7 separate regions of the Homo sapiens genome follow, and all the other regions are reported to be linked to region 1. The links are microRNA targets in miRTarBase. Many come from high-throughput screens and were not tested one by one. Region 1 holds a microRNA gene; each other region holds the end of a gene's coding sequence.

Evidence for each region. The annotated mature microRNA hsa-miR-6873-3p reads UUCUCUCUGUCUUUCUCUCUCAG and lies in region 1 at 2,912-2,934, opposite strand. An mRNA with a match to its seed (bases 2 to 7 or 8) in the 3' UTR can be bound and repressed. Matches are read on the target gene's strand: a 7mer-m8 pairs with bases 2 to 8, a 7mer-A1 pairs with bases 2 to 7 and ends in A, and an 8mer does both.
Region 2: the mRNA of FBXL16 is a reported target of hsa-miR-6873-3p. Seed matches in the 3' UTR shown: 7mer-A1 at 2,939-2,945, 7mer-m8 at 2,321-2,327, 8mer at 2,318-2,325, 7mer-m8 at 2,303-2,309, 7mer-m8 at 2,301-2,307, 7mer-m8 at 2,299-2,305 and 5 more.
Region 3: miRTarBase lists MX2 as a target of hsa-miR-6873-3p. Seed matches in the 3' UTR shown: 7mer-m8 at 2,569-2,575, 7mer-m8 at 2,567-2,573, 7mer-m8 at 2,565-2,571, 7mer-m8 at 2,563-2,569, 7mer-m8 at 2,561-2,567 and 8mer at 2,558-2,565.
Region 4: miRTarBase lists PALM as a target of hsa-miR-6873-3p. Seed matches in the 3' UTR shown: 7mer-m8 at 3,168-3,174.
Region 5: miRTarBase lists PPP1CB as a target of hsa-miR-6873-3p. Seed matches in the 3' UTR shown: 7mer-A1 at 2,304-2,310.
Region 6: miRTarBase lists HOXB5 as a target of hsa-miR-6873-3p. Seed matches in the 3' UTR shown: 8mer at 2,630-2,637.
Region 7: miRTarBase lists KANSL1 as a target of hsa-miR-6873-3p. The part of its 3' UTR that is shown has no 7-base or 8-base seed match.

Annotation. Positions count from the first base shown.
Region 1 is chr6:33,284,316-33,288,390 of GRCh38, forward strand. MIR6873 (microRNA 6873) reads right to left here and starts at 2,974; the gene lies at 2,912-2,974. It overlaps WDR46 (WD repeat domain 46), which reads right to left. Exons shown (of 15, transcript NM_005452.6): 4 at 4,043-4,075; 5 at 3,833-3,920; 6 at 3,650-3,711; 7 at 3,299-3,403; 8 at 3,040-3,190; 9 at 2,776-2,911; 10 at 2,480-2,579. RefSeq lists enhancers at 2,917-3,450, 3,451-3,984.
Region 2 is chr16:690,606-694,680 of GRCh38, forward strand. It overlaps FBXL16 (F-box and leucine rich repeat protein 16), which reads right to left. Exons shown (of 6, transcript NM_153350.4): 5 at 4,029-4,075; 6 at 1,895-3,818. The coding sequence ends at 3,670. Among named protein-coding and RNA genes, the nearest start is that of WDR24, 2.2 kb to the left of the region's middle. RefSeq lists an enhancer at 1-221.
Region 3 is chr21:41,407,765-41,411,839 of GRCh38, reverse strand. MX2 (MX dynamin like GTPase 2) reads right to left here. Exons shown (of 14, transcript NM_002463.2): 14 at 2,447-3,849. The coding sequence ends at 3,607. Among named protein-coding and RNA genes, the nearest start is that of MX1, 16 kb to the left of the region's middle.
Region 4 is chr19:746,143-750,217 of GRCh38, reverse strand. It overlaps PALM (paralemmin), which reads right to left. Exons shown (of 9, transcript NM_002579.3): 9 at 1,889-3,933. The coding sequence ends at 3,404. It also overlaps a transcript of MISP not described here. Among named protein-coding and RNA genes, the nearest start is that of MISP, 2.9 kb to the left of the region's middle.
Region 5 is chr2:28,798,896-28,802,970 of GRCh38, reverse strand. It overlaps PPP1CB (protein phosphatase 1 catalytic subunit beta), which reads right to left. Exons shown (of 8, transcript NM_002709.3): 8 at 31-3,772. The coding sequence ends at 3,668. Among named protein-coding and RNA genes, the nearest start is that of SPDYA, 9.9 kb to the left of the region's middle.
Region 6 is chr17:48,588,967-48,592,966 of GRCh38, forward strand. It overlaps HOXB5 (homeobox B5), which reads right to left. Exons shown (of 2, transcript NM_002147.4): 2 at 2,291-3,490. The coding sequence ends at 3,243. It overlaps HOXB3 (homeobox B3), which reads right to left and starts at 1,275. Exons shown (of 5, transcript NM_001384749.1): 1 at 1,159-1,275. HOXB-AS3 (HOXB cluster antisense RNA 3) reads left to right here and starts at 1,454. Exons shown (of 3, transcript NR_033201.2): 1 at 1,454-1,623.
Region 7 is chr17:46,028,202-46,032,276 of GRCh38, forward strand. KANSL1 (KAT8 regulatory NSL complex subunit 1) reads right to left here. Exons shown (of 15, transcript NM_015443.4): 14 at 3,846-4,075; 15 at 1,715-3,502. The coding sequence ends at 3,275. MAPT (microtubule associated protein tau) reads left to right here. Exons shown (of 13, transcript NM_001377265.1): 13 at 1-133. Among named protein-coding and RNA genes, the nearest start is that of STH, 31 kb to the left of the region's middle.

The sequences.
Region 1 (4,075 bases):
AGGCTCAACGATTCATCCTTTTGTCTCCAGAACCTCAGCGCAGAGCCCTGCCCACAGCAGGTGCCCAGTGAATACCTGATGACAAAAGGAATCAGAGGAAAATACAAATCAGACAGAAAAGCTGTGGAAAATGCAGATACTCCCTCAGGAACAGCAGAAATCCAAAGCAGACACCACCTCCACCCCTCACATCAGCCAGACCTGGAGAGAACGATCATCTTGAATGACAATGATGAACACAGCGCTCCCTATTTTGCTAAGCGCTGTGCTAAACTATATGCCTTAACTCATCTTAATGTCTACAACAGCTTATATGAGGGCTTTAAACCAAGGCTTGGTAAACTACTGCCCATGGGCCAAACCTGGCCCATCATCTAGTTCTGTATAGCCCACAAGCCAAGAATGGTTTTTACATTTTTAAGTGGTTGAAAAAAAATCAAAAGAATATTTTGAGACTGTGAAAACCGTATGAAATTCAAATTCCAATATCCAACAAATAAAGTTTTATTGGAACGGGGCCACACTATTTACTTAATACTGTGGCTGCTTTTGCTCTACAACACACAGCCGAGTGGTCACGACAGCGACTACAGCATCCTGATTTGCACTGCTGCTTTGTACACTACAAGTCACAGTGACACAGTCGTAAGTGCTTCACAGCATTTCAAGCACCTCACATATCACCTATCATTACCTGTGTGAAAAGATGTTTTCAAAGATGAAATACTTGCAATCTCTACAGATCAGCATGAACATGAATATCTACAGTCAAATTTGACCATCTGGAACACTAACTTTGTACATCAATTAGGCAAAATGTTAACCTCAAAAAGAGAAATTCAGTTCTTCCCATTAGTAGATCTGTATTACACAAATATATTTGATTATTATTATTTTTTTTTTCTGAGACCGGGTCTCACTCTGTTGCCCATGCTAGAGTGCAGTGGCATGATCACAGCTCACTGCAGCCTTAACCTCCTGGGCTGAGGTGGGAGGATCACCTCAGCCTCCTGAGTAGCTGGGACTACAGGCATGCACCACCACACCCGGCTAATTTTTCTATCTTCTGTAGAGACAGAGTTTTGCCATGTCATGGGTGACATGGCTTGTTTCGAACTTCTGGGCTCAAGTGATCTGCCCACCTCAGCCTACCAAACTGTTAAGATTACAGGCATGAGCCACTGTGTCCAGTCTCATATTATGTTTTGTTTGTTTGTTTGTTTTTGAGACGGAGTTTTGCTCTTGTTGCCCAGGTTGGAGTGCAATGGCACAGTCTTGGCTCACTGCAACCCCTGCCTCCCAGGTTCAAGCAATTCTCCTGCCTCAGCCTCCCAAGTTGCCGGAATTACAGGCCCCCGCCACGACACCCGGCTAATTTTGTGAATTTTTAGTAGAGACAGAGTTTCGCCATGTTGGCCAGGCTGGTCTCAAACTCCTGACCTCAGGCGATCCACCCGCCTTGGCCTCCAAAGTGCTGGGATTACAGGCGTGAGCCACCGCACCTGGCCATATTACGTTTAATTTTATAACCTAAAAATGTGTGGGCCAGGCGCAGTGGCTCACGCCTGTAATCCCAACACTTTGGGAGGCCGAGGCGGGCAGATCATCTGAGGTCAGGAGTTCAAGACCAGCCTGGCCAACACAGTAAAACCCCGTCTCTACAAAAAAATACAAAATTAGCTGGGCATGATGGCAGGTGCCTGTAATCCCAGCTACTTGGGAGACTGAGGCAGGAGAATCGCTTGAATCTGGGAGGCGGAGGTTGCAGTGAGCCGAGATCACGCCACTGCACTCCAACCTGGGAGACAGAGCAAGACTACGTCTCTCTCAAAAGATTTAAAAAAAAAAAGGTCAGGCGCAGTGGCTCACGCCTATAATCCCAGCACTTTGGGAGGCTGAGGCGGGCAGATCACTTGAGGTCAGGAATTCGAGACCAGCCTGAACAACATGCTGAAACCCTGTCTCTACTAAAAATACAAAAATTAGCCAGGTGTTGTAGCAGGCGCCTGTAGTCCCAGATACTCGAGAGGCCAAGGCAGGAGAATCACTTGAACCTGAGAGGTGGAGGTTGCAGTGAGCTGAGATTGCGCCATTGCACTCCAGCCTGGGTGTCAGAGCGAGACTCCATCTCAAAAAAAAAAGTTGTGATAATTTGTTTTCTCTTGGTATTTAAATGCCTACATGGTACCCTTTGATTTTACCTCTTATCAGCAAATCATAAAATATTTACTATCTGACTCTTTACAGAAAAAGTTTGTGGACCCTTGAAATGGACACTCATATTTCCATTTTCGGGGTCAGGAAACTGTGGCACACAGAGGTTATGAAATATGCCTATACTTGCAAGGCCCATCCGTGGTAACACTGCGATTTAAACCTGGGCATCCTGGCTTTAGACTCTGTGCTCCTAAAGCACACTGCCTTCCACACCTTTCTGCCCACCTATGACTCCTAACACCTCACCCCACCAGTGACTTACGTGCCTGTAGAATCTACTGCCACAGCCCGGACCCCACCACGATGACAGAGAATCTTTGCCAGTGGCTCCTTCATAGCTGGACTCCATAAAGACACAGTACCTGGAAGAGAAGAAGAACCAAAGTTGCTAATACACACCTAAGCCTGAGGTTACTAAACATGGGAAAGATGGGAACTCAAGACCAAGAGATAACAAAAAAGGGAAATAAAAGGGTAACTTTAAGGGACTCATGAAGTACAAATATAGAAGAAAAGCAAGTCAGGATGGTCAGAGTCAAAACTAAGCCAGGTACTGACCATTGCTGTGTCCGAGATGGATGACGGCATTGTAAGGGTTCTGACTCATAACATCGAGCCGCCCAGCTCGAGCATTCAGAGCTGCCACAATCTTCCCCACTGACACATCCAGGTAGGTTAGAAACCCTGTTTCTGACTGAGAGAGAAAGACAGAGAGAATGACCCAGTCCTGATTGCCCTCTGTATTCCCTCTGCTGGGGTCCTAAAGGAGAGGTGGTCATCCCAAGGGCTTCCAACCAGTTCCTGAGCTCCATGGCCACTCACAGCTGTAGCCAGGAGGAAGTGGAAGGGCAGGAACTCAAGCCGTGTTACTCGGTCACAGCGGCGGATACAGTGGAGCTCAATGCCCTGATTGTCATAGATGTGGAGCCAGCGGTTCTGAGCAACAGCAAGCAGTGCCTCAGAATGGAGAAACCTGGGGGAGAGGAAGAGTGGTTCAATTGGGAAATGAGGTCACAGGCTATCATTCAATCAGGAATGGACTATCTCACCCCAACTGACCGCTGACAGTGAGGCCACTGACCGGATGTCCCGCACCGCCTCCATGACGTTGATCTCGCACATAAGCTTCTTTGTTACCCAATCAAGGGCAGCCACATGACCTCGGCGCCCTCCAAAAGCCAGGTGTCTGTTGGAGGTGAGGGGCAGGCAGGGTGTTAAGGCAGGGGACCACCGACTCAGACAACTTGAGGTCTGCCCCACGCCAGCCCCATCTCTCCAGGCGGGCAGACACATGTTGCTGTAGGTGCTTACCCTCACACCCAAGCAAATCGAAGGACCCTCCCCTCATCAGCAACCCAAACATACACTGGGAATGGCTGAAGTGGTTAAGGAAACACATCTTAGTTCAAGAGTCACTAGAATTCAACCTTACCTTCCAGTTCGAGAGTAGTTTAGTCTGTAGGGTCCAAACTGCCGCAGATTCAAGTCAAAGTGCTGGGAAAGAGAAGAGTGAAAAAAAAGAGTGCCCTGCAGTAACGCCTTCTTCTAGCCCCCATTCCTCTATTGTCCTGCACCACCAATCAATCCCTTGGCTCCTTTACCTCCTCAGGCTCACCTTGGCTGCACTTGCAATGTCCACAGCCTCCACAATGTCAGCCTGGCATATCTTTGCTGTGTCTTCCCCATCCTCCCCTTCCAGAAACCTGAAAGCAAGGGTTAGGATGGCAGTAAAGCTTCCCAATATGAAGCAAGTATACCAACATAAAAACGAGAAAAGACAGTCCCAAAAGGCAGGGAATGGGGGTCCAGATTAGGGCTCACTCACCCAGGTTCTTCAGCAAGCAGCAGCTCAGAACGA
Region 2 (4,075 bases), not on the chromosome of region 1:
TATTTATTTATTTAAACGGAGTCTCGCTCTGTCGCCCAGGCTGGAGTACAGTGGCGCGACCTTGGCTCATTGCAACCTCCACCTCCCAGGTTCAAGCGATTCTCCCGCCTCAGCCTCCCAAGTAGCTGGCACTACAGGCGCCCGCCACCACGCCCGGCTAATTTGGCTAATTTTGTATTTTTGGTAGACACGGGGTTTCACCGTGTTGGCCAGGCTGGTCTTAAAACTACTGAACTCAAGCGATCCTCTGGCGTCAGCCTCCTGAAGTGCTGGGAATGCAGGTGTGAGCCACCGCGCCTGGCCTGTTTTTTAAGTCTCAATTTCAGTATTTTAATGCCATCACCTATTTTAATCCCCAGGTCCATCATGACATCTGGTCATCCCTAGACAAGTTCCGAGTGCCCCCAGTCTTCCCCTCCTTCCTCACTCCTCGACCTCGGGAGCAGCCTCCCAACGGCTTTCCTGGGTCCGTCTTTCCCCTTTGATCAGAAACCCGCACAGAAGTCAGGCACCAGGTCTTCTGCCTGAGGCCTCTGGCAGCTCCCACTATGCTGTGAATGAACCCCAACTCCTGGCCTCCGCCTTCCCCTGCCCACCTCCAGCCATGGCAGCCTCCACCCCCATTCCCAGCCCACCAAGCCCTTTCCTGCCTCAGGGACATTGTACGTGCGTGCGATGCCTCCTCCACAGAGCGGACCTCCCTGACCACTGCCCTAATGGGCTTCTCCATCACTGTGGCCTCCACGGCACTTGTCACCACCCATTCGTTTGTTTACTGGTTGTTGTCGGTCACATACGAGTGTGAATTCCACCAAGGCAGGAATCACATTCTGGCTCAATCCCCACCGAATGCCCAGTGCCTGACACACCTGTTCAACCAGTTGCTCTCGTTCTTTTTTTTAAAAAACTTTTTGAGACGGAGTTTCGCTCTTGTTGCCCAGGCTGGAGTGCAATGGTGCAATCTTGGCTCACCGCAACCTCCGCCTCCTGGGTTCAAGCGATTCTCCTGCCTCAGCTTCCCGAGTAGCTGGGATTACAGGCATGGGCCACCATACTGGGCTAATTTTGTATTTTTAGTAGAGATGGAGTTTTTCCATGTTGGTCAGGCTGGTCTCGAACTCCCAACCTCAGGTGATCCACTCGCCTTGGCCTCCCAAAGTGCTAGGATTACAGGTGTGAGCCACCGCACCCGGTCTCTTTAAAATTTTTTGAGACGGAGTTTTGCTCTTTCGCCCAGGTTGGAGTGAGGTGGCGCAGTCTCGGCTCATAGCAACCTCCACCCCCTAGGTTCAAGCGATTCAGCCTCAGCCTCCCTAGTAGCTGGGATTATAGGCAACCACCACCACACCCTGTTAATTTTTTGTATTTTTAGTAGAGACAGGGTTTCACCATGTTGGCCAGGCTGGTCTTGAACGCCTGACCTCAGGTGATCCACCCGCTTCGGCCTAAGTGCTAGGATTACAGGCGTGAGCCACTGTGCCCAGCCTCAGTTGCCTTTTTCGACCTCTCTGTCTCTCCTGGGTGTGAGCCATTGTCTGCTATTGGTGCATTTTGTAATCTTTTGCGACATCCTTGTCCTTGCCTGTTACTGTGTATAGAACAGGGTTTATTTCTGCCTCTCTGGAAGGGTGGGCTAGAGTCTGGATATGTTGGAGGGAATATTATGTGTAGTGACTTCAGTGTTGTCTCTCCCTTTAAGGAATGGGAGGTCCTCTGCCTTCCATGTAGTCACTGCTGTTTCCATTCTACCATGTCGGCATCCAGCCTCTACCCCTTTGTTGCAAGAAAGAATAAATCTGATAAGAGGTACAGGAGAATCCCGAGACCTGGGATGCGCAGGGCAGATATGCCCACCTACACCGCTGTCTGGGGACCTAAAAACAACTCAGACACATGTTTTTACAACTTTTTTAATATATATTTTTATAAACAGGTCACGTGATAAAATAGCACAAGAAACACTTACCAAATATAAGGTTATATCTTCCGCATATACAGGAGAATGAGGTCGTTATGTACAATAAGAAAATGATTTTAGGGGTTGGTTGGTTTTGTTTTCCTCTCTCCCCTTAATTTTTCCTCCTACAGTCGTTGGAAATATCACAGCTTCAGTTGCATTAATACTTTGGGCAAATGGACAGCTGCCCCTCCCCACTAGGGGTTGTGGGGAGGAGGGGCTGGAGAAACTGGCTCCTGACCACTCAGCCCTGGAGCTTCCTGGGGCTGGCACTCCAGGGACAGGAAAATCTTTGGGCTGTTGATCTGTTTCTGATTCAACAGCATCTCTCTCTCTCTTTCTCTCTCTCTCTCACTCTCTTTCTCTCTCTCACTCTCTGGCTCTCTGGAAACTGGTTACTCTCTTCCAACCAGATAGGGAGTGTCCCAAGATTGGGTGTGGGCGCGGTATCTCCTGGGGCTCAAGGTTGGGATGGGAAGGGGTCCCAGCCCCCTCCTCAGCAACAGCTGAGATTTGCCAGCATCCCCCAGGACTTCCAAATGTCTCGGGCCGACAGAGCACGGTCAGAGCCCATTTGGGCAGACAGAAGTTTGGGAAGCTGGGGAGGGGTGAAGTGGGGGTGGGGGGGCAGGCTAGAAAGGAGCCCTCCCTCCTCGGGGTGTCTAGGGTGTGCTGGCCACTGGAAGATTGGAGTCGCTGACCCAGTGCTGACCCTGACCCTTGGCTGGGTCCACTCTGCAGACTCCACCTGAGGAGACCCACCCAGGGTGAAGCTCGGTGCCCAGGCCTGAACTGAGCCCGGCCGGGTGCAAGGGCTGAGGTGTGAGGTCGGCCCAGGCCTCTTCCCAGGCCTGAGGGTGGCTACAGCTCGAGGCTTGCAAGGTGCCTGCGCCACCCCTGGGTTGAGGCCGACCGGAGTCAGCTGGGATCACGTTAATGACTCCAAGCGATCGCCAGCCCTTCCGCCCTCTCCCTGCCCAATTCTCTCAGCCTGGCCAGGGACCAAGGCCGGGTTTTGGGGCGGACAGGGGACTGCCCCACACAGCGGCAAGGAGGAGGAGAGGCCGCGTGGGTCAGGCTGGATGGGTGAGGAGGTGCGGGTGGGGCCTGGGCTCTCGGCGGCGGGCCATGGCTTTGGCGGTGGCCTGTTTCCCCTGACACCCCTCGGAGGGCTCCAGGTATGGTGCGGTGGAAGATGCAGGAAGCCCGTGGGGCTCTTCTGGGCCCGTGTCCTGGGGGACCCAGCCCCCTCAATCCCACTGGGCCCTGCCCGGGATGGGGGGGACAGTGGGAAGACAGAGCGGGTGTGGCGGGGAAGGCGGTAAGGGCACAGTCTGGAGAGCTCAAAGCCCCCCCAAGGACCGAGCCCCGCCCCCCAAGCGGGAGGGCGAGCGAGTGATGGCGGCGGCTGTGGCTGTGGCGTGGCGGAGGGCGGCGTGCAGTGCGGGCACGAGGGGCATGCACAAAGTCCCCGAGTGTGCGTGCGTGCGTGGGGCGGGCCCACCCGCCGCCCCCCTGCCCGGGGCGGGGCTGGGAGGGCGGAGGGACCGAAGGTCGGGGAGGGGCTTTCCCTCGGCTCGCCCCGCCTCCCGCGCTGGGCCGGGGGCGCGGGGGCTCCCCCGAGCGCAAGGCGGGAAGAGGGGGCTCGGCGGCGCCCCGCGCCCCCGCCCAGGTCATGGCCGGGTTCCCGCGACCGGGGCGGGGGCCTCGCGCTACTCAATGACGAGGCAGCGGGGCAGGTGCTGCGAGAAATACTTGAAGAGCTCGGGGGTGGCCCCGGGGCAGTTGGTCAGCTCCAGCTCCTCCAGCTCCTGCAGCTGCACCAGGCCCGACAGCCCGGTGGTGGTGAGCAGCGGGCAGCCTGCGGCGGGGTCAGAGGGCGGCTCAGTGCGCGCGGCCCAGGGCTCGGGCGGGGACGGCCGGGCCGCGCCTCCCTCCTCCTCCGCCTCGGACCCGGGACTGTGTGTCCGCGCCGGGTGTGAGTTTGCACAAGGACCGGGCAGGTTGGGCGGGTGGACTAAGTGGGGGTGGGTGGTCACTGCCAGCGTCAGAGCAGAAACGGGGGTCTCACCTGCCAGAGACAGGAGGCGCAAACTCCCCAGGGCCAGGAGGTGCTTC
Region 3 (4,075 bases), not on the chromosome of region 1:
AGATACCAGCACCTGCCCTGGTGGAGGTAGCAGGGGAGTGAAGTGGGCTCTGTGAGTGTCCTTGCTTGTAATTTTGTTTAGTGTGCTGGTTTTCTCAAATGCTGGTTATGCTAGCAGTGAAGTTGTCATGTGGACAGATTCAGGACCTCTGGCTAGCCAGGATATTACAGGCAGTGGAATTAGCTGTTGTTTTCTTTTTCTCTAGGGGCAGGGTTGTTCTGTTATGAGTTGCTGTAATGGCTTGAGTGGGTTGGCCTCCAGCCAAGAGGTGGCGCTACAAAGAGGGCAATAGCTGCCACAGTATAGGGAGGATACAAGCTTGCCCTAAGGTTGCCTGGGTAAGTATTTCTGTTTCTTAAGTGATGGGTGGGGCCGTAGAGCTCCCACGAGATTATGTCTTTTGTCTTTGAATACCAGGGCAGGTAGAGAAAGACCATCAGGTGGGGCAGGGTTAGGCATGTCTGAGCTCAGATTCTCCTTGGGCAGAGCTTGTTATGGCTGCTGTGAGTGATGGGGTGTGCTTCTCAGGCTTATGGAGATACATTCCCAGGGGGATTATGTCTGCTTCTGCTGTGTCATACAGGACACCAGGAAGGTGAGGGAAAGCTGGCAGTGACAGGTCTCATCCAGCTTCCATGCAGCCAAGAAGGCCAGTCTCACTCCCACCATGCTCCCCCAACATCCAACAGAGCCGATTTTATATCCATGCCTGTAGTGCACAGGACTGAGATCTTGCCGCAGGTTACAAGCCTCCCTATTGAGAAAGCAAGCAGGGCTTTCAGGCCATGCCCCTCCCCTCCCCGTCATGGCTTCTGTGCTCCTACCTGCACTTCCCATTTCCCCTTCTCCCTGCCCTGGATGCTGTCCAGGAAAACTCACGATCAGTCAGCATTATTACAAAGTTCAGCTGGAAGTCTCCTCCCTGTGGCCCTTCCCCACTTCCACTGGCTGCCCTCCCCAGGGACCCCTGTGAGATTAAAGTCAGAAATGGCTTCCCTGGGTTTCCCTGGGGACCAGGAGTGCCTGCAGGGCTCTTCCCACTGCTTCTACTACTTTTATATTTCACTCGGCTCTCTAAATTTATTTCAGCTCTAGATACTGTTAAATCCTTCCCCTCTGATCTGGATTTTTGGGTTCCCCAGTGAGGATGTGTGTTTGGAGATGCTTTCCCCTCTTACATTTCGGGTGCTCACAGTTTTTTGGCTGTCTCACAGTGTTTGCAGTGACAAGCCACTTTGTTCAAAGGGTCTGTGAATTCTTTTGGTTTTCCTGGTATGTTCCTGTGGTGGTTCTTGGAGAAAAAGCTCACAATGTGAGTCTCCACATGCTGTTCTATCCATCCAAGTGGAAACTGCACATTAGTCCTGCTTCTTACCCACCATTTTCCCTCTGAAAAAAAAAAAATAGCCAGCTTCTTCCTTTTAGGTTGACATTCTTACTTTTGGAAATCAGTGCTAATGAAACCCAAGTGTTCCTTATGGAAATGTAGTTTGAAGAGTGAGGCTCCCTTGGACCTCCCAGCCTTGTCTAGCTTCTGTGTGACTGTGACGCATGGGTGAGCCCAGGTGAGACACACAGAGGAACAACACAGACTTCCCACAGAATCCAGAGAAAGAATACATCTGCTGTTTTAAGCCATTAAGTTTTGGGGTGATTGTTACACAACAATAGATAACTGGAACATATTCCCAAATTCCACGTTTGGAGGATTGCAAGCAATCGATCAATGTCAGCCTTTCCATGATCATCTGGTTTGCTTCAGGCCAGATCTGCTGCCTTTTGAATTAGAGATACCTTTTTCCAAGTTTTTGGTCATTGCTCGAGTTTTGTGTTCAGAATGCACATGTCTATTTTCTTACTTGCTGTAATGGAACAAATTATGCCCCCACCCTCAAATTCATATGCTGATGCCTTAACTCCCAATGTGACTGCATTTGGAGGTAGGGTCTTTAAAGAGGTGATCAAGCTTAAATGAAGCCCTAAGGGTGGGGACCTGATTCAAGAGGACTGGGATCCTTGTAAGAGAAAAGAGAGAGGCCAAGCATAGGCCTGGTGAGAAGGTGGCAGTCTGCAAGCCAAGGAGAGAAACCTCAGGAGAAACCAAACTAGCAACACTTTGATCTCAGACACTTCCAGCCTCTGGAGGTGGGAGGAAATAAATTTCTGTAGCTTAAGCCACCCAGCATGTGATATTTGTTATGGCAGCTATAGCAGACTAATACACTAGCATTTGAACACAAATCAAAGAGACCTCTGCAAGAGAGCTCTTGGGGATGCTGGTCAAGCTGTGATTTTTGACTTGAACTTTCTTTTCCAACATCTTTTACAGCAAATGAAGAAAGAAATTCACGTAATCTTTCTCGTCTGTACCCCTGAACAAAGCTGAATGTTTTTGAGGCACTCTTTCCATCTCAAACTTGGGTTTTAAAACAAATCAGCAATGATATTTATTCTATTGCCTTTTTATTAAGGAATCTATATGTTCATCATTTGAAACATACAGGAAAACATGAAGAAGAAAAGAAAATTACCCATAATGATGATCACTGGTGTGAAGTTCTCTCTCTCTCTCTCTGTGTATGTGTGTGTGTGTGTGTGTGTGTATTCAGAGACAGAGTCTCACTCTCACTCTGTCACCCAGGCTGTAGTACATGGTGCAGTCATGGCTCACTGCAGCCTCAAAATCCTGGGCTCAAGGGATCCTCCTGCTCCAGCCACCTGAGTGGCTGGGACTACAGGTGTGCACCACCATGTCTGGCTACTTACAAACAAATTTTTTTAGAGACAGGGTCTCCCTGTGTTGCCCAGTCTGGTCTTGAACTCCTGGGCTCAAGTGATCCTTCTGCTTCAGTCTCCAGAGTCACTGGGATTACAGGTATGAGTCACTGAACCTGGCTACGTTTTTAAAAAGTTTCTTTGCTTTATTAAATTCCTCTTCAAGACTTAACAGAACAATGGAAGCTCATCATAATCAGGGAAACAAGAAGAAAAGAGAATCACTCAGGCTCCTTTCTGGCGGGGGAGTGGAGAGGCTGGGAAACACAATGACAGTGAACCATGGGAAGCAGGGGGCATGGCCACTGGATCTGAAAGGGACCGGCTAACAGTCACTAAATGTCCAAGGCCTGGGCTTGAGCAATAGCCTCAGGTATCTCCATCACTTACACAGCACTCATTCGTTCAGTGAGATGTCATTTATTAAGCAGTTACAATGCTGCAGGTGCTGTGCAGGAGACTGGACATACAAAAGAAGAATTTGACCCAGACCTTCCCCCTCTGGGGTCTCATAATCTTGTAGGGGGAAGGGAATACAAATACAAATTAGCGAAGAATGATAGCAGTATCTTAGGACACTGTAACTGTGTGCTACGGGACCCAAGGACTGGAGAGCCATCCCTTCGTGAAGGTCAGGGAAGAGCTGGGTGGTGGAGAGAGCTGAGCCTGTGTGGACCCCTGATGCATGCTCTGATGCTGAGGGAGTACAGTAGAGATGGACACTGATAGTGACAGAAGAGTTTGGCCCCAAAGCAGAAGCGGCATCCTGCACCGACTCCCCTTAGAATGAATGAGTACGCACAAGAAAACAACCACAGGCATCGCCGCCCTTCAGTGGATCTCTTTGCTGGAGAATTGACAGAGTGCGTGTCGCGCCTGAGTGAGCCGGTAAATTCTCTCCTTAAGGATTCTTCTCTTGGTAGCGGTCTCACTCTGCTCTTGAAGCAGCCAGGAATAGCGATTTTTTTCCTGTAGTATCTGCATCATGGCTTTCTGCAAGGAGTCACCATTCTCTCGGAGCATAAAATACTGAATTATAAATGGGATCTGGTTGGCGAGACGTTTGCTGGTTTCCTGGAAGAGGGAGAAAGAAGGGTTTGCTGGAGTGGTCTCAGCCCAAGGCCTGTGGTTGCAGAGAGAAGGCATGGAGTTCCTGGATGCGCACATGGTTGCCTGGCGAAGCCCTGGTGGTCTCGCCCACCTCCACTCCGGTGGTCAGCATCAAGCCCCGTGAAGGTTCTATTTGCGCTGACCCCTCTTTACTTCCAGGCATCCCCTCTAGCACTAAGAAGCCCCCTGG
Region 4 (4,075 bases), not on the chromosome of region 1:
CAAAAAAAAAAAAAAAAAAAAAAAAAAAAGAACCGCACGAGGCCGTCAAAAGACCCAGGCCACCCCGAGAGATGGGGACGCAGAGGCCCTCAGGCGCCCATGGTCCTCCTGGATTCTTAGTCAAGGTGCAGAGGCCTTGCTGGGACTGTGGGGAGCCCAGCATCTGTGGGGAAGTCGGGCCACTGGGCCTAGCGCCGTCTATGAGGGCAGGGAACACAGCTGAGGGGGCAGGGACTTCAGTTCCCCAGGCTGGGGCTCTGTCCTGACCTACGCCAGAGGGGCTGCTTGTGGAGCCCCTCTGAACCTCAGTCTCTTCTTCGAGTAAAAAGGCCCCCAGCTACGAATCCAGCAGGGCTGCTCAGGAGGGGGGTGCTTTTTTTGTGTTTTTTTTTTGAGACGGAGTCTCGCTCTTGTCACCCAGGCTGGAGTGCAGTGGCACGATCTCGGCTCACGGCAACCTCCCCTGTTCAAGCAATTCTCCTGCCTCAGCTTCCCTAGTAGCTGGGATTACTGGCATGAGCCACCACGCCCAGCTATTTTTGTATTTTTAGTAGAGACAGGGTTTTGCCACGTTAGCCAGGCTGGTCTCGAACTCCTGACCTCAGGTGATGCCCCCGCCTCAGCCTCCCAAAGTGCTGGGATTACAGGCGCGAGCCACGGCGCCTGGCCAAGATGGGGGTGTTTAAGGACAAATCTGGATAAAGGGCCCCCAAAGGACAGCGTGGCACCTAACGCTGCTGGGTGTGTGAAAGCTCAGGGTGCGCGGCCTCACGGCGCCTCCCACCGCCGCCTCCCGCCACCCCCTTCACGTCCTTTTCTCCCTGGCTTGTAGATAGGGAAACGGAGGTACGGAAAGCTTAAAATCGCGCCTCAGGAATGGCGGGGGTTTAGGCTGGAATTGGAACCTGAGTTCCCTCAGCAGTGCTCTCCACCACACTCACCACCTCATCGGGGAAAACTGAGGCCCCAGCAGGGTGGAGGCTGGATCGCCCATGAGCTGGGGGCACTGTGGAGACGTCCCACGCCCAGGCTGAGGCTGGCCTCCCACTCAGGGCTCCGAAGGCCTATTTTATTTTATTTGAGACAGAGTCTCGCTCTGTCGCCCAGGTTGGAGTGCAGTGGCACGATCTCAGCTCACTGCAGCCTCCGCCTCCCAGGTTCAAGCGATTCTCCTGCCTCAGCCTCCTGAATAGCTAGGATTACAGGCGTGAGCCACCACGCCCGGCTAAGTTTTTGTATTTTTAGTAGAGACAGGGTTTCAGTATGTTGGCCAGGATGGTATCGATCTCTTGACCTTGTGATCCGCCCACCTCGGCCTCCCAAAGTACTAGGATTGCAGGTGTGAAACACCGTGCCCGGCCACGAAGGCTTATTTTACAGATGGGAAAACTGAGGCCCAGAGGAGGCAGCGACTTCTCCAAGACTACAGCGTGAGAGAGTGGGGCTGGCGGGGCAGCACCTTCCCGTGAGCATGACACTGGTCTCTACAGACACCTCCTCCCCAGGCCTCCTGTGTATTTCCCAGGGGCCGGCTTCTCTACAGAGCTTGTGGGTGTCCAGGGGACCCTCTGTCATCACCCAGGGGCTGTGAGCCCAGCAAAGGGAGGAACAAAGGACAGGACGGGGCGGCCGCAGAACCCGAGGGCCCCCCGGGAAGCCAGTCCTGCCCCCCCACAGCAGCCCCTTACAGCCAGGCCTTACCTGCACAGTGGGGATTCCAGCGCCTCCCACCACCCCAAGGCGCTCAGGGTGAGCGGGTGCAGGCAGGTGAAGCCAGCACACCGCAACCCTGCTCAGCCTCCCTTTAATGGCTCAAAGGCCGGCAGGCCCCACCCCCTGGCCTGGCCACGCCTTCCTCGCCAGGTTGAAAGGCAAGAACTCCAGGAACTGGGGCTGTTCACGCTGTTTATTTGCTTCTCTGGGAAAATCAAGAACATCGGGGGCCTCGTCACACACCAGAAGCAGAGGGGGTTATAGCAAGGGCACTTCAGCGAAGGCTCGCGGCTCGAGGGACTCAGGCAGACTCCAGGGAGGAGGAGGGGGTTCCACGGCTGACGCCCAGGTCACCCCCGAGAGGGCCTCTCCTCCCAGCCACCCAGGGGCAGAGCGGAGGCAGGGACCCAGGCTCCCATCCGAGGTGGCCCCTGTACCTGCCCTGCCGAGGCTGCAGGTGGTGACTGGACCAGGAGGTGGCCTGAGCACTGGGCACCAGGCTGGAGGTCCCTAGGGCAGGGACCAAGTTGGGGCCTGGTTGTCCAAAGCCAACGTGTGAGACGGTGTCTGTGAGAATGTGCACGAATGTGCCTCTGGGGACGAGTGTAGCTGCCCCCAGGAGGGAAGCCCCTTGCCACTTCCAATGAGAGGGGGCTGGGGGCAGGCTCACATTGGTCTGGGTGGCAAATGAGGGTCTCCTGCTCCAACCCAAGAGGCTTCCTGTCCCAGGCTGTGTCCCTCCCTCCACTGCCCGGACGTGCTCCAAGCCCAGTAGAGCTGGCAGGTGGGGCCTGATCTCGGGGTATGGTTGGGAAGACCCAGGACCCTGGTCCAAGCAGGATGGAGAAGAGGCCGGGGGCGGCCCCTGGGGTCCCCAAATTAGCACCAGGAGGAAGGAGGGCCCAGTGGGGGCGGGAGCTCGGGACAAGGAGTGGCTCACTCGGTCCCTGCCCTGTGCAGGGGGCAGGTCAATGACCCCTGGTTCGCCCCGTCTAGAAGATAGCCCAGGGGTTACCGGCCCCTCCCGGGTGGGGGCATGTCCCCGGGGTTCCCCCTCCCCCAGACTCCATTGTCCACTGGTTGGGCCCACACAGGGCATAGGGGCACAGCAGAGGGGCCTGTCCTCCACCCAAGACCTTTAGCCCCCAAAGAGGCACGGCCTCACCCCAACTGCCTGAGATTGGGGGGCCAGCGCCTTGGCCAGGGAACCCCATAGAGCCTCACTTCCAGGGCCTGAGCAGGCCTCAGTACCCACCCCCGGCTCCCGGGGCCCTCTCTGGCGGGGTGTCCCCTCAGAGAAAGGCACAGGTAGGAGGCCCAGAGGGTGGCAGGCTGGCCTGGGCCGCGTGGAGGCTGCGGGTCCCACCCGCCAGGACCCCGGTGGGCGCGAGCCGCGTCTGTGAAGCTGCCGTGACATGGGGGGTCCTTGTCTCGGGAAAAGCGGGTCTGTCCTGTCTCTCTCCTACCAGGCACAAGTGCACGGCTCTGGTTCGGGGGGAGTGTTGGGGCGTGGTGACGGGTGGGGGCCCCTGTCCCTCTTTCCAGCGAAAGAAAACTCGGAAGGAACATGTAACAACACGCCAAGTCCTGGACCCGTGAGGCTGTGGGTGGAGGGTGGGCAGGCGCCGGGAGGGGCCGGGCTGGTGGGTGTCTGTGGTGTGGGGTGGGGGCCGGGGTCTCGGGGGCCGGCTCACATGATGGAGCAGCATTTACAACGGTGCTTCTTCATGTCGAGGTCCTGGGGGTCGCTGGTGGTGGCCTCGGGCCCCGCCTGATTCTCTTCCCTGGAGGCGGCCTCCGTGGGAGGCTCGGCAGCACTGCCGTTGGGTGGTGCAGGCTCCTTGGGCTCAGCCGCGTCTTCGATGACCACCAGCTCCGCCGTGATGGTATCTTGAAGGCCCAGCACCTTCTTGGTCTCGGCCTCATCCTCCACGTTCTGGTAACCCATGAAGATCATTGTGACCGGGGGCTCCTGGCCGGGCTGGATCCCCGGCGGGCCGGACGTGGCCTCGCCTGGCTGTGCCTGCACACCGGTGATCTCCCGCCGGGAGGGCGTGGTCCGGGCTGCCCCCTCCACAGCCCCCCGGGTCTCTGCCGCCCCGGCCGTGGACCCTGCCTCGCTCAGCGTGACCTCGTCCGCTTTGTGGATGAGTTCGTCCACCTCGGAGGAGCTCAGGGGGTGGATCCCGTTCTCGGCGGTGCCGTCCACAGCATGGACCACTGTACAAGGAGAGACAGAGAGAATGACCCAGCTCCAGGCAGGAGGGACAGAGAGAGTGACCTGGCTCAGGCAGGAGGGAAACCTTGGCAAGGCTTGTATCCTCCTCCAGGCTAAAGAGGAAATCACGAACTAGATTACACC
Region 5 (4,075 bases), not on the chromosome of region 1:
CCCTAAGAGGAAAGAAGCAAAGATTTATGGTCATTTTTGTAAAAATAAGGTTTAATAAAACATCAGCAATCTGCATGAGAAGGTAAATTACAATGAGAAACTTAAAAAGCTTACGGTCTAAGTCAACCAATGTAGAAGGTAGTGGTTGAAGAAAACAAGCTTTGACTTTTAAAATTTCCTAACCAGGGGATTTATTTAGAAATTCTGGCATTCAAATGTACATGTAAAATCCAATTTAACAGATCAAAATTGTTACACTAAGTTTCACTTAGTATCTAAGTATCCAATCACAATTGTATCTAAGTTTCACTTTTAAGAAACATTATAAAGGTAATTAAAACTCTAGGTGTATACTTATATGGAACTAGTTTATTTCCTATTTAACTACTGTTCATTGCGTAAAGTATGTTGTCCCAATTTTCAGCTGTTTTAAGGAATTATAAAACATTGAGATCTACTAGGAAGAGGGAAAGCCTACTTCTAAGTGATGCCACTAGTACAATCAGGCTTGGATTAAGTCTCTTCTCAGGGGCAGCTTTGATTTAGCCATGGACTCACAAGGAAAACAAGAGGTGGATTTGGTTAGGGAGCAACAGCAAATTCAGCCCGACCATATTCCTAATCTAAACACATTTTCAGCATAAAGATGTAAAAACAATTTTTTTTGGTTCAAAAGTTATGGTTGCCATGGAGACAAAAAGAATATACCTGAATTTATAAACTGAGATATATTTCAGCTCCTTGGCTTAAAATAATACATCTTTATATTCTTGAGACATATCTCAAGATGTTCCTTGCTTTGCCTTGAATAAAAATTTTTTTGAAAAGCCTATGTTTCTCGTGAACACACTCATACTTCAAATTTACCACCTATTTTAAGCTTTAAAATTCTTCTTGCCAGCATTTTTCAGCTAAAAAAAATCATTTCACGAATGTTTAGGTACTTTTTACAATGAAGGGATATGGCAGCATGGATACTGGGTAGCTGGCTAGGCTCTAAATACCTGATGACTCAACGCTTTGCACAAACCAGTCTTGCTGATTATTAAAATTTGTCCCTGGGCAAAATTAAAGCAATGCATGTTAAGGCTTCAAATGCAAAGGATTCACTGTAGTTGATTCTTTCAAGAATAGAAATCGACCATAACTTTGCTTTATAATCCATGTGATACACCACATTATAACAGATATCTACTGTGTTTCATGATTTCTGAATGTCATAACATTTGGATTAAATTGTATACAAAAAAATCACTAACCTGAAAAAAATCAGAGGAAAGAACAATATAAATTAGTGACACTGGAATTACAGAATCATTTTCTCCTAAGAAACAAAGTTTTATTTATTTCAAGTCGTGTTGCCAAGCAAATATTTGTAAAGAACACATTTTTATGACTGGAGGCTGTTTAAGTGGTTTTAAGAGTGCTTGAATAATTTTTAAACATGATAAATTTCCATCCTTTAAATTTAATGACCAATATTAATTAGCTTAAGTAGTGATTATTTTTTCACATTTAGTCTTTAAAAAAAAAAAAAAGGATTCCTATTAACCAACATACTTAGTCTTGACCTGGATGAATTTACAAAAGCCAGACAATGGGATACAGATTAATGTGGTTTAATACTGAGATTAATCAACATTGCCCTTTTTCCCTGCCAAAGGCTTATTTTCTAGACCTGCTTCACTATGACTACTAAAAGTGTACAACTAAAATTTTATTAGAAATCGCTCAGCTTACACACTCCAATCAGGAAGTTATTTAAATCACCTCAGATAAAACCTTTGTGACCTAACCTAATACATCATATGCAGATCATGAATACTTTCAGAAAAGAATCATTTCAATATGTCAAGGACATAGTATCTATGTGAATAAAATGTGTGCTTAAATGTCTCACTGTAAGGAAAAAAAAAATCAGTCAGGCTTCATATCAATTAGACAACTTTTACTAAATGAGAAAACTACATTTAAAATGTGCTTTAAAACAAAACGGAATTAGAAAAAAAGACATATGCATTTTAAAGAACTTTTGCACTGTGCTGAAAATGAAATATCTCTTGCAGTAAGTAATACAATGTGCCAATTCATAAAATGTAAGTTAACAGGTTTCTCAATTTAACATTTTCAAAGACGATATTAAGGTCAAAAATGTCACATCTATGGTAGCACATATAGAAGGGCATTATAGATATGATGTCCATCCCTATGAAGCTTACAAATTTGACAATGCTCAATAAAAGCTTTTAGAATCACATCCAATAGTGTCACAGTCAAAGAATCACAAATCTGTGTCCTGTAAGTTCTCTCCTTCTAAAATCTTCATGTTAACTTTTCTACTCATTGCCATTTGTTAATACTAACCCTTAAAAAAAAGAAATAGGAAAAGAAAGGCTGCAATAAACTTGATCAGGTACAGAAATTATTGCTACTATACTTCACTACAAAGCTTGTCTATACAGTATCATATGACCTTTGATTATGAAAAAATCAGAATAAAAATCTTTAGTGACATAAGCCTTACAATCGTATACAACATTCACATGGCAATATTAGACAGTTAAGCACCCAATACCCATAGTTGACAAAATGTCCCACTGACCAGCATTCATTTAAATACATCCTTCGTATAGAGGGAGGAAAAAGAGACAGTGTCAGCTTTCCAAGGCTTGTCAAAAAAGGATTCTCATGTACTGTGGATCTAAAAACAAACAACAACTCAAAAAAAAAAAAAAAAAAAAAAAGAAAGAAAAAAGAAAAAGAAAACCAATGCAGGTGAAGGTGTTACCAGGAAGTTAAGCATGCCAAAAGGTGTTCCGTGCGAATGAAAACCTAAAGCCAAGGTACCACATAATCACATTACCAACTAGTTGGGTAATACTATATGAGCCTTATCTTAAATGAAATGCTACTGCACAATAGAGCATCAATAAGTTAAAAATTAGAGTGCACAAATCCAAATCAGTGTCAATTCCTGTATAAAGCAAAATATTCACTATCAGCTGTAAAGTTTGCCCAGTCAAACTGTATGATTAAAATCACTGGATTGGACAATGTGCGTATTTTTTTTTAAAACAATCAATCTCTAAAATTCCTTTTTAATGTAATGAGGCGAAAGTTTTCTTAGTAAGATTAAACAGATATCTAAGTAGATAAACAAGGGAAAATAATAGTTGGTGAATGTCTGTAAAGCTCTTCCCATATTTCACTTTTAAAAATGTTTAGGGAAAAAAATTAGAAGTATTTGCCATTATTCTAGTGAAAACAAACAAAAACAAAACAAGCTCAAAATAATTAAACAACCAAGCAACACTAAAACCACATTACACAGATGGATCATCATGCTTTCATCTGGTTTAACTATCACATCTAGTTTAACTGGGATGCTTTTCAACTTTAAAAATTGTGATACATGAAGATGTAACTTTAATGGATAATTTTGAATTTGGATTTAACTTTGTTGACTATAACAGAGTATACTTATTACAATACAGTGTAGCACATCTTTCTATTAGAAAAAAATTTAAGATCCTTTACCCGTCTCCTTAAGTTAAAGGTGTGACATCATAAAGGGTGTCAAATGGCTGGATGGTTTTACAGTGCACACTTATATATTATGAAGTATGTCCTTAACAAATCTGATGGTTTCTTTACAGAATTCCTTTCTTCACCTTTTCTTCGGCGGATTAGCTGTTCGAGGTGGAGTGACAGGACGTCCAGAATTCAGTCCACCATACTGGTATTTAGCTTTCTTTTCAGATGGTTTCAATATCTTAAAGTAAATTATTAACAAATAATGTTATTTTTTCATGTACAGAAGTTAAGAAAATTGTTACAATTGTGATTTTCAATAAATGGCATAAACTGCAAAAATGCAATAAAAATGTAGAATAGCAAAGTTCCATAAACATTTCTTAAAGTGTGCAAATGTCTGAACTTTGTCATTCCACTCATATTTTAATAACAAAAGTACACTAACTCTATCAACTATCCAATCCTTAGATTTAAGTAAAAAACTTTTTGAACTTAGTGTATCTCTGTTGTGAGGAAAAGAACACTGGTTTAAGAGTCAGAA
Region 6 (4,000 bases), not on the chromosome of region 1:
GAGCTGAATCAAGGGATGGCAGGCTGGTGAAAGTAGGAGTGACAGGGTAGTTAGCCCCACGGGTGTTAAATTGGAGGGGGGTCAATTTGGTGGGGAAGAAGCCTCTGACTTTTAGAAGGGTGACTTTTCCCTAGAAAATAACAGAACCCCTGGGGATCAAATCCTGAAGTCTCTCTGGTTTATGGTTCTACAAAACAAAGGGGACTTTGAGGGTGTGCCCAGAAAAGAAGAGGGAAAAAGAGAGGAAAAAAGAGCACCTTTCCTATTTTCTCTTCCAGCTCCTGAATCTATTTCCTCCCGACAGTTGAGGGATTTGTATTCTTGAGCTGATTTTATTTGAGGAGGGCTTGCCAGAGTTCTACTTAAACACCTAACACCTCTAGGCAAGAGAAGAAGCTCTTCCCTTCCCCCACTCCTGGTTCAGGAATTAGGTTTTGAATTGGGGGAATTGCCCTCTCTGTCTGCTCCCTAGTCTGACTTCAGGATCCTACTTCGAGCCAAGGAGAAAGATTAGCTTGAGACCAACAGGCTGAAGGTGGAGGCAAAAGCAGCGCTGTGCTCCCCATCCCAGAGAAGCCTGATGAAGCCAAAGATAACCGGAGGGACCTCTTTTTATGGGCTTCAAAGATCGGAAAGCCAGAGATCACCCCAGGGCAAGGTAGCCCACAGCAGCCGCCTACCCGGTGCTTTTTCTCAGCTCAGATGTATCCAGATAAAAGTGCCCAGCGGTGCACCCCCACACACCTCCGACAAATGAATGTCATAAAGTTTCTTTCCGGAGGATGGGGGGATAGTTGTCTGAAGATATCCAGCAGTGAAGTGGCCCCCACCAATGGCCCCTTCTTTCAGCAATATACACCCCTCCTTCCTGGTCCCTAAATTTCCGCTGGCACTGAGGGAGCATGGATCCCCCACACAAACCCTTTTCCCCACAAAGTCAGACACTCCTGTTGGTAAAAATCAGGCACCCCCGACCGATGAGGCCTTAAGAAACTGAGAGCACTCATTTCAGGCACCCAGTCCCTTAGAACTGGGTGCATAAAACAGGCTAAATTTCCCCTACATCACCCCACAGCCCCAGGTGGAAACAAGTTTTCTTCCCCCAGTCCCAGGCCCCAGAATTGCAAGGGGTAAAAGCGAAAGCTGAAAGCGACTTACTGCGGGAATGCTGGCCTGGGCCGCCGCTGCCTTCTGGGCTGGTCCGGCTGCTCCAGGCTGGGAGAGTGCTCACCTACCTCTGCCCCCTTCCCCACCACAGCGAGCAGTTAAAGTGTCACTTAACATTCTGGAGAATGTGAAATATACTGCGCGGTGTCAACTCCCCAAAACCATAAAACTAACTTTATGGACCTCACGTGACTTTCTCGAGCCAGTGAGGGGTATCTGTCTGACTTCTCGGCGATTTTTACGATCTAACTTCGAGATAAAACCCCTATCCATTTGACATCTAAATGTCATAGCGACTTTTGGGATAGTTTGCTATCGACAAAGGGAGACAAAGTCAAGGGGTGAAGGGAAAGGAGGGCCAAGTAGAGCCTCCACGACCCTCGGCTTCCTCCTCACCAGCTCCCCCTCCCTCCAAGTCCAGTAAGAAGTTGGGCCAAGCTGGAAGGGATTGACCGGGTAAGTGTCCAGACTTGACTCTTGTGCTCAGGGTGGAGGCTGACTTGGATGGAGGTAGACTGGGCCCTAGCCCTGGGCCAGGCTGAAAGGGAACCAGGGGTCTTTCTGAAAGGACCCTAACTCCTAATCAAGAGGGAAGATCAGTTGGGCCCTTGGAGAGAAGGAGCCCTTGATAAGGGTAGGGAAGGCTGAGGGTGAGAGAAATCCTTTGAAATCCAGCTGAATTTTTTTTTTTTTTTTTTTTGCTTTAGTTGGTGGCAGAGCTGAATTGGGACTTGGAGTAGGAGACAGGGGGCTGGGCAGGCCTCTACCACTCCCAAAAGGCCAGGAGCCTCCTGCTGAGGACTTAGGCCCAAATTACTTTCCCAGAAGAGTTTTCCAGAGGCTTCCTTGGCCAGCTAGTGGAAGACCAGGATGAAGTCTAGCTCAGCCTTTCCTCTGCCCCAGCCCCACATGGGGTTTCTGGGCCTTGGAGTCCCCCAGGCATGAAGGTCTGTTCCCTGGCCCAAGCACTGTTGACCAAGCCAGTGACTTACATGGCTGAGAAGAGTTGTTGGGGAGCAGCCTACTTTTTCTTCCCTGCACCCCAGATCTATTGAGAATGGTGCAGGGTGTGCCCGGGATGGGAGAGGCAGACCCCTCGGAGAAAAGACAAGTGGAAGGGCAATGGAGTGGGGGAAACATTTATTTGACTTCCAGGAAAGCTACAAACAAATACCAAAAGCGAATCACTGAGACAGGCCCCGCAAAGACAGATTTCACACGTAGCACAGCATCCACTCGCTCACTACAAATGGTCTTGGAAGCAAGATGGGTAAGGGAGAGATGGGTCTGACCCAGACTATCCCCATATTTACAAGCTTTGGGCCCTCTAGCCAGACCCATGGATTCACAGAGAAATACACAAGACATTTTGCACTGAGGATCATTTTTGTTTCCGTATACTCCCAGACCAGGCCTTGTGGGGCCTACCCAGGCAGCAGGAACTTAAATCTCACTATCTTCTTTCTCTCTTCTCAATACCATCCCTTTGGTCCTCCCTAGCCCCTTCCCACCCTAGGACCAAGCCCCTAGGAGACTTGGGCCTAGGGAGTGAGGAGGGAGGAGGAGGAGAATGAAAAGGGACTCCATCTCCGAAGCCAGCTCAGCTTGACCCCACTGCGGCACTACCCCACCTCAACTGCTGCCCCTTACAGAAGTTTCCAGCTGAAACTCAAAATACAGCGATCATCTTTTTATAAATAAGTTAGAACACAGATGGGGAGGGGAGAGTTCACATTAAACATGCGAATTTCTTTTTTTTTTTTTCCTGGGGGAAAGACTGCAACCACAGACACAAACATTCAGAAACACTGGCGGATTTGGGACAAGCAGAAGGGAGTTGGGAGCATGGAAGGAAAATAATAATAATAATTATTATTAACAATAATAACAAGATAACCAGTCCAGGAGAGAGGGAGCCACAGGAAGACCTAAGACCAAACGAAATATCGTAACACAAGGCGAGGCAGGCTTGTGGGAACCGGTCCCCAGCGGGCGGCGGCAGAGCGGGGAGGATTGGAGGGGCCAGGGCTGGGGGTGGCACGGGCTCTTGGGCCGCTGGGCTCCTCTGGGCGGGCTCAGGGCTGGAAGGCGCTGCCAGCTGTAGCCAGGCTCATACTTTTCAATTTGTTGTCCTTCTTCCACTTCATGCGCCGGTTCTGGAACCAGATCTTGATCTGGCGCTCGGACAGGCAGAGTGCGTGGGCGATCTCGATGCGCCGTCGCCGGGTCAGGTAGCGGTTGAAGTGGAACTCCTTTTCCAGCTCCAGGGTCTGGTAGCGGGTATACGCGGTCCGGGCCCTTTTCCCGTCCGGCCCGGTCATATCTGGAGCAGATAGAGGAAAGCCGCAAGGCAACATTATTCCGGTTAAGGGAGGGGGCACTGGGTGGGAGGGGGCGGGGGAGCAGGACCCAGGCGTCCCGGCACCCAGCTCACCACAGCTCCAATCCTCTCTACTCCAGATGCCCACATTCAAGCTCGATTTCTGCACCCCTTTCTACTGCATCCCCCACTTCTGCAGGCAGCCAGTGCGCCCGGCTTTGTCTCTTGCTCGCTCCTAGTGCCTCACCCTTGGCTGGGCTCAGGCGGCCGCTCGCCCCGGGAGGGAGGAGAGCGGTTGCACTTTTGCCCCGGAAAGCTCCTTTTACTGTTCACCCCTTCTTTGCTAGCGACAGTCTCAAAATTTCAGGGGTAAGCAGGACCCTTCCCCACATTATATGAACCCCATCCTTTATCCTAAAGCTGGTTCAGCTGCGCTAATAAAAACCTAAGCCGAAGCTGGAAACAAATTATTAAAAATACCCCCCTCTTAACAGAGAGACCCTTTTTGGCTCT
Region 7 (4,075 bases), not on the chromosome of region 1:
GGACATGAAATCATCTTAGCTTAGCTTTCTGTCTGTGAATGTCTATATAGTGTATTGTGTGTTTTAACAAATGATTTACACTGACTGTTGCTGTAAAAGTGAATTTGGAAATAAAGTTATTACTCTGATTAAATAAGGTCTCCATTCATGGATTCCAAGGACAAGAAAGTCATATAGAATGTCTATTTTTTAAGTTCTTTCCCACGCACCCTTAGATAATTTAGCTCAGAACAGGAAATGATAGTATTAATAAAAGCTGGACATCAGGATTAACAGCTCTCTCTGGGGCCCTGAAGGTGAGAGTTCTCAGACTTGCTCATTTGCAGTTGCTTCTTTGTGATGCTGGCAAACCATCCTAGTCCCATTCAAAGGGCAATACAAAGCCTTGTGGCTGACCTCACGATGCAGCACTCAGTTTGCAAGACCGGCACCAGTGTATGCAAACCTGAGAAGGTTGGGGATGAGGATATGGGATCTTTCATCCCTGGAAATTTAGTCCAGAGGCCTGGGGCTGGAGCAGAACACCAAGCCAATCAGCTTAATGAATGGCTTAGATTCCTGCTAGGTTTGCAGAGCTGCCTTCTTTCCTTTGGTACCTTATTATAGATTGAGGAGTATTTCTGCTAAACCAAGATAGGGATAACCAGATAGCATCTTCATAGCAATGCCACAAAGGAAAACAAAAACAAAACAGTAATCCATCATATTATTCCTTAGTAACTATGCCAAGGTCATGATACTGAATCCTTAGATTGTTTCAAAATACTACTTTTCTTTGCTCTTCCTGATGTGTTTGCCACCGCAGGCAGATGTTTAAGTAAAACAGATTTTAACTGCAGCTACAAAAGCAGCAACAGGCCAGCAAAAGAGAAGTGCTATCTCAGAGAGCATGGCTTTCAGAGCCACAAGAGACAGCCTCACTGGCTGTTTCAGCTTGACTGCCATGCAAAGAAGAGAGCAGAGGGAGAACCAGCCCCACCCACTTATTCATCTTGTACAAAAAAAAAGCACCTACCAGCCTAGGCTACATAGTGAGACACTATCTCCACAAAAAACCCACGAAAACTAGCTGGGTATGGTGGCACATGCCTACAGTCCCAGCTACTGGTAAGGCTGTGGTGGGAGGATCTCTTGAGGCCAGGAAGGAGATCCAGGCTGCAGTGAGCCAAGATTGCACCACTGCACTCCAGTCTGGACAATCGAGCAAGATCCCATCTCAAACAATAAAAAAAAAAAGCGTGTAACCTCCTCAGAAGAAAGATGTTATAATCTCAGGCAGCAGGCAAGAACCAATCCAGGCTCTAAGCAAATTATGTATCTCACTGACCCCACCAAACCTCAGAAAAATTTAACAGTGAGAAGCAAAATCTCCTTTAAAGAGCAACTTAGAACAGATAGAAAATATCATACAGCTGACTTCACTAGAGAGAAAGTGCATCAACTGCTTTCACTCAACAAAAAGAAAAAAGAGATGATCAATGCAGATCCCCTCTCCTCCTGGCAGCCCTTACCCTCAGTGAAAAGCCACCACCATTCTCTCTCTGGTGGCCATCAGATCAACCTGCGGCGTTCCCACAAGACAGAATGGAGATTTTCCAAGGTATAGAGCAAGTCAGAGTACCCCAAAGAACGGCGGCAGAGAGCCAGCTCCGAAACTGCCAACACTACCATGCATACACAGTTCAGTAAGTCAAGAAAGGCCTGGTACACAGCATTCTGTAACTTTTTTTTTTATTTTTTTCAATTTTTCCTTCTTTTTTTTTTTTAAGCACTAGTCTGTGCTTTGCGAACAGAATCAAGACATTAACAAAGATCAGCTTCTCTGAAGAAAAGCATTTCTATAGAACAAAGACAGCTACATGTTTCGCTGCCATTACACAGCTCCAAAGCAGGAAAAGAAAATATTTACAAAATACAAGGTTTTTTTTTTCCATTTTTTGTTTTTGTTTTTTTTTTCAATGCTAAAAGGGTTATTCAGAATTTTCAACCTTATAAATAGAAGAAGCACTTTATGCATAGGGATATGGTGCATTATTGTATTTTTTTTTAAAGAAACAATGACAAACCCTTTAACTTGCAAACAGAAAAAAAAATCACTAATGTTGAAAATTGTGAAAAAACCCCAACCATTAAGCAGTTGTCTACTATTTTTATACGATTACAAAATGGCCAAAAAAAAAGAGTCTTCTCCCCCCTCCCCCTTTTTGGTGATGTGATCATACAGGAGACAGGCACAAGGTTAACAGAGAAGGGTGAAGGGGGAACAATGGGAACCACAGCTAGGACCAGACAATGTTCCACAGGCAAGGGGAGCGTGAAAGACCAAGAGTGGAACTAACACCGACAGGGATCTGGATGTGAAGGAAACATGGCAAAGTGAATCAGAGGGAAAAAAAAAAAAAATCACACAGGGAGATGGCTGCTCACTTCCCACAACCCCCAGTTTGCAGGGGAGTGGGAATAGAGGTTAAGTAGTCCTAACCCTACCTTCAAAGATCAGGATAGGTGGTAAAAATATTCCAAGTGGAAGGACGGGTTGTGGGTGTGTACATGGCATGGGAGAGCAGACAGGGAAGGGTACCAAGGGGCATGAGGAGGGGAACCTGAGCAGCCACAGCCAGGTTACTGCAGTGAAAGAGTCAAAACAGAGAAGACCAAATGCAGATGAAACAAAAAATCAGTCTCTTAAGTTCTGGGTGAGAAAGGAAAGGTGTTCTGCCAGCTGAGCACTCGGGGAGAGCAGCTGGCAGTTATGGCAGAGAGGCTCTGGTGGGGATGTTCCAGCACGAAAAACCAAGGGGACCCAGCCAGGAGGGCCACAGCAGAGCCAAGCCACAGATGGGAGGGGAGGGGGTAAGAGTCCAGAGCACCCTGCCCCATTCCACCCTAGCTCAAGAAGGCCATGCTAAACTGTAGCCCGCCAGGCTGTTCTGCCCTGCCCACAGGTGTGAGGGAGGGGGTGGTCATCTAAGATCAGTAAGTCCAGTGATTCAACAGTGCAGAGGATGTGCCAGGACCAGGCCAGCAGGGTCTCATCCTGAACTTCTGTTTGCCAACGGGAGGAAGTGCTCAGGTGTGTGACAAGAAAACATGGAAACAAAAACAAAACAAAAATTAAAACAAGAAAAAAAAATACCAAAGTAGGATCTAAATTCCTTAAGTTCACTAAAAACTGTGAAAATTTCCGGCATATGATGTTTGAATATCAAACGCAGAGATTTCTGAAGCTTTAATGCCAATAGTTAGTGAGTCTGTTTAGATGGCTGTCTCCCGCTCATCTGTGAGTCGGGCGCTGAGCTGTGGCTGCTGCCACCAGATGCCGACTCTTGAGGGGGACAATGGGAGGCGAGGTGGGCGCTGCCTCTGTCTCCCGGCCAGTCTTGCTGCCTGAGGTGCGTCGAGTGCAGCGGGCTGCTCGCTCCTGTGCATCCAGCTGGTCCTCACACTCCGCCTGGGGACTGTGCGCCAGGGGGAAGGTCCGCCGCTCCCAGGGCTGGACAGACTGTAGGCAGACAAGTTGCTCTTTGAGGACCCAGTCCCAGCCAGCCTGCTTCCTGCTCCAAGGCCCTGCCACAAACCTTGTGGCCTGGAGCCTAGGACCAGTCTATCTAGTGTTCCTGCGACAGTCTGGGAACACCCCTCCTAGGGTATACCCAGACAACTGTATTGATCATTTAGCAGTGATCAATACAGTTCCACTGAACGTTGAGGAGATCAATTTAAGTGCAGCCCTTTGTCCCTTCAAAAGGGGGAGGGGATGGCTAGGTCCCTCTTCAGCAGATGCTGCCCCTTCCTGGTTCCATCCCCCAACCATGCCAACCCCACCCAAAGGCTGCGTCCCTTACCTGTTCATCCAGCCCCAGCTCTGGTGTGGAACAACGGGTATCCTCACTGGCTAAGTGTCGCGGAGTGTCCCGAGCCACAGGGGTGAGGGGTGCTGAGTGCAGTTCCGGGCTAATGGGGCTCCTAGGGGACTGACCATGGGAGTATTCTGACAAAGAGTGGCTACTGCTGACATCAGGGGAGGCAGGCTGGGGGGTGGAGGGGTTGGCACTGCCCAGCTGGGGGGTTGTCC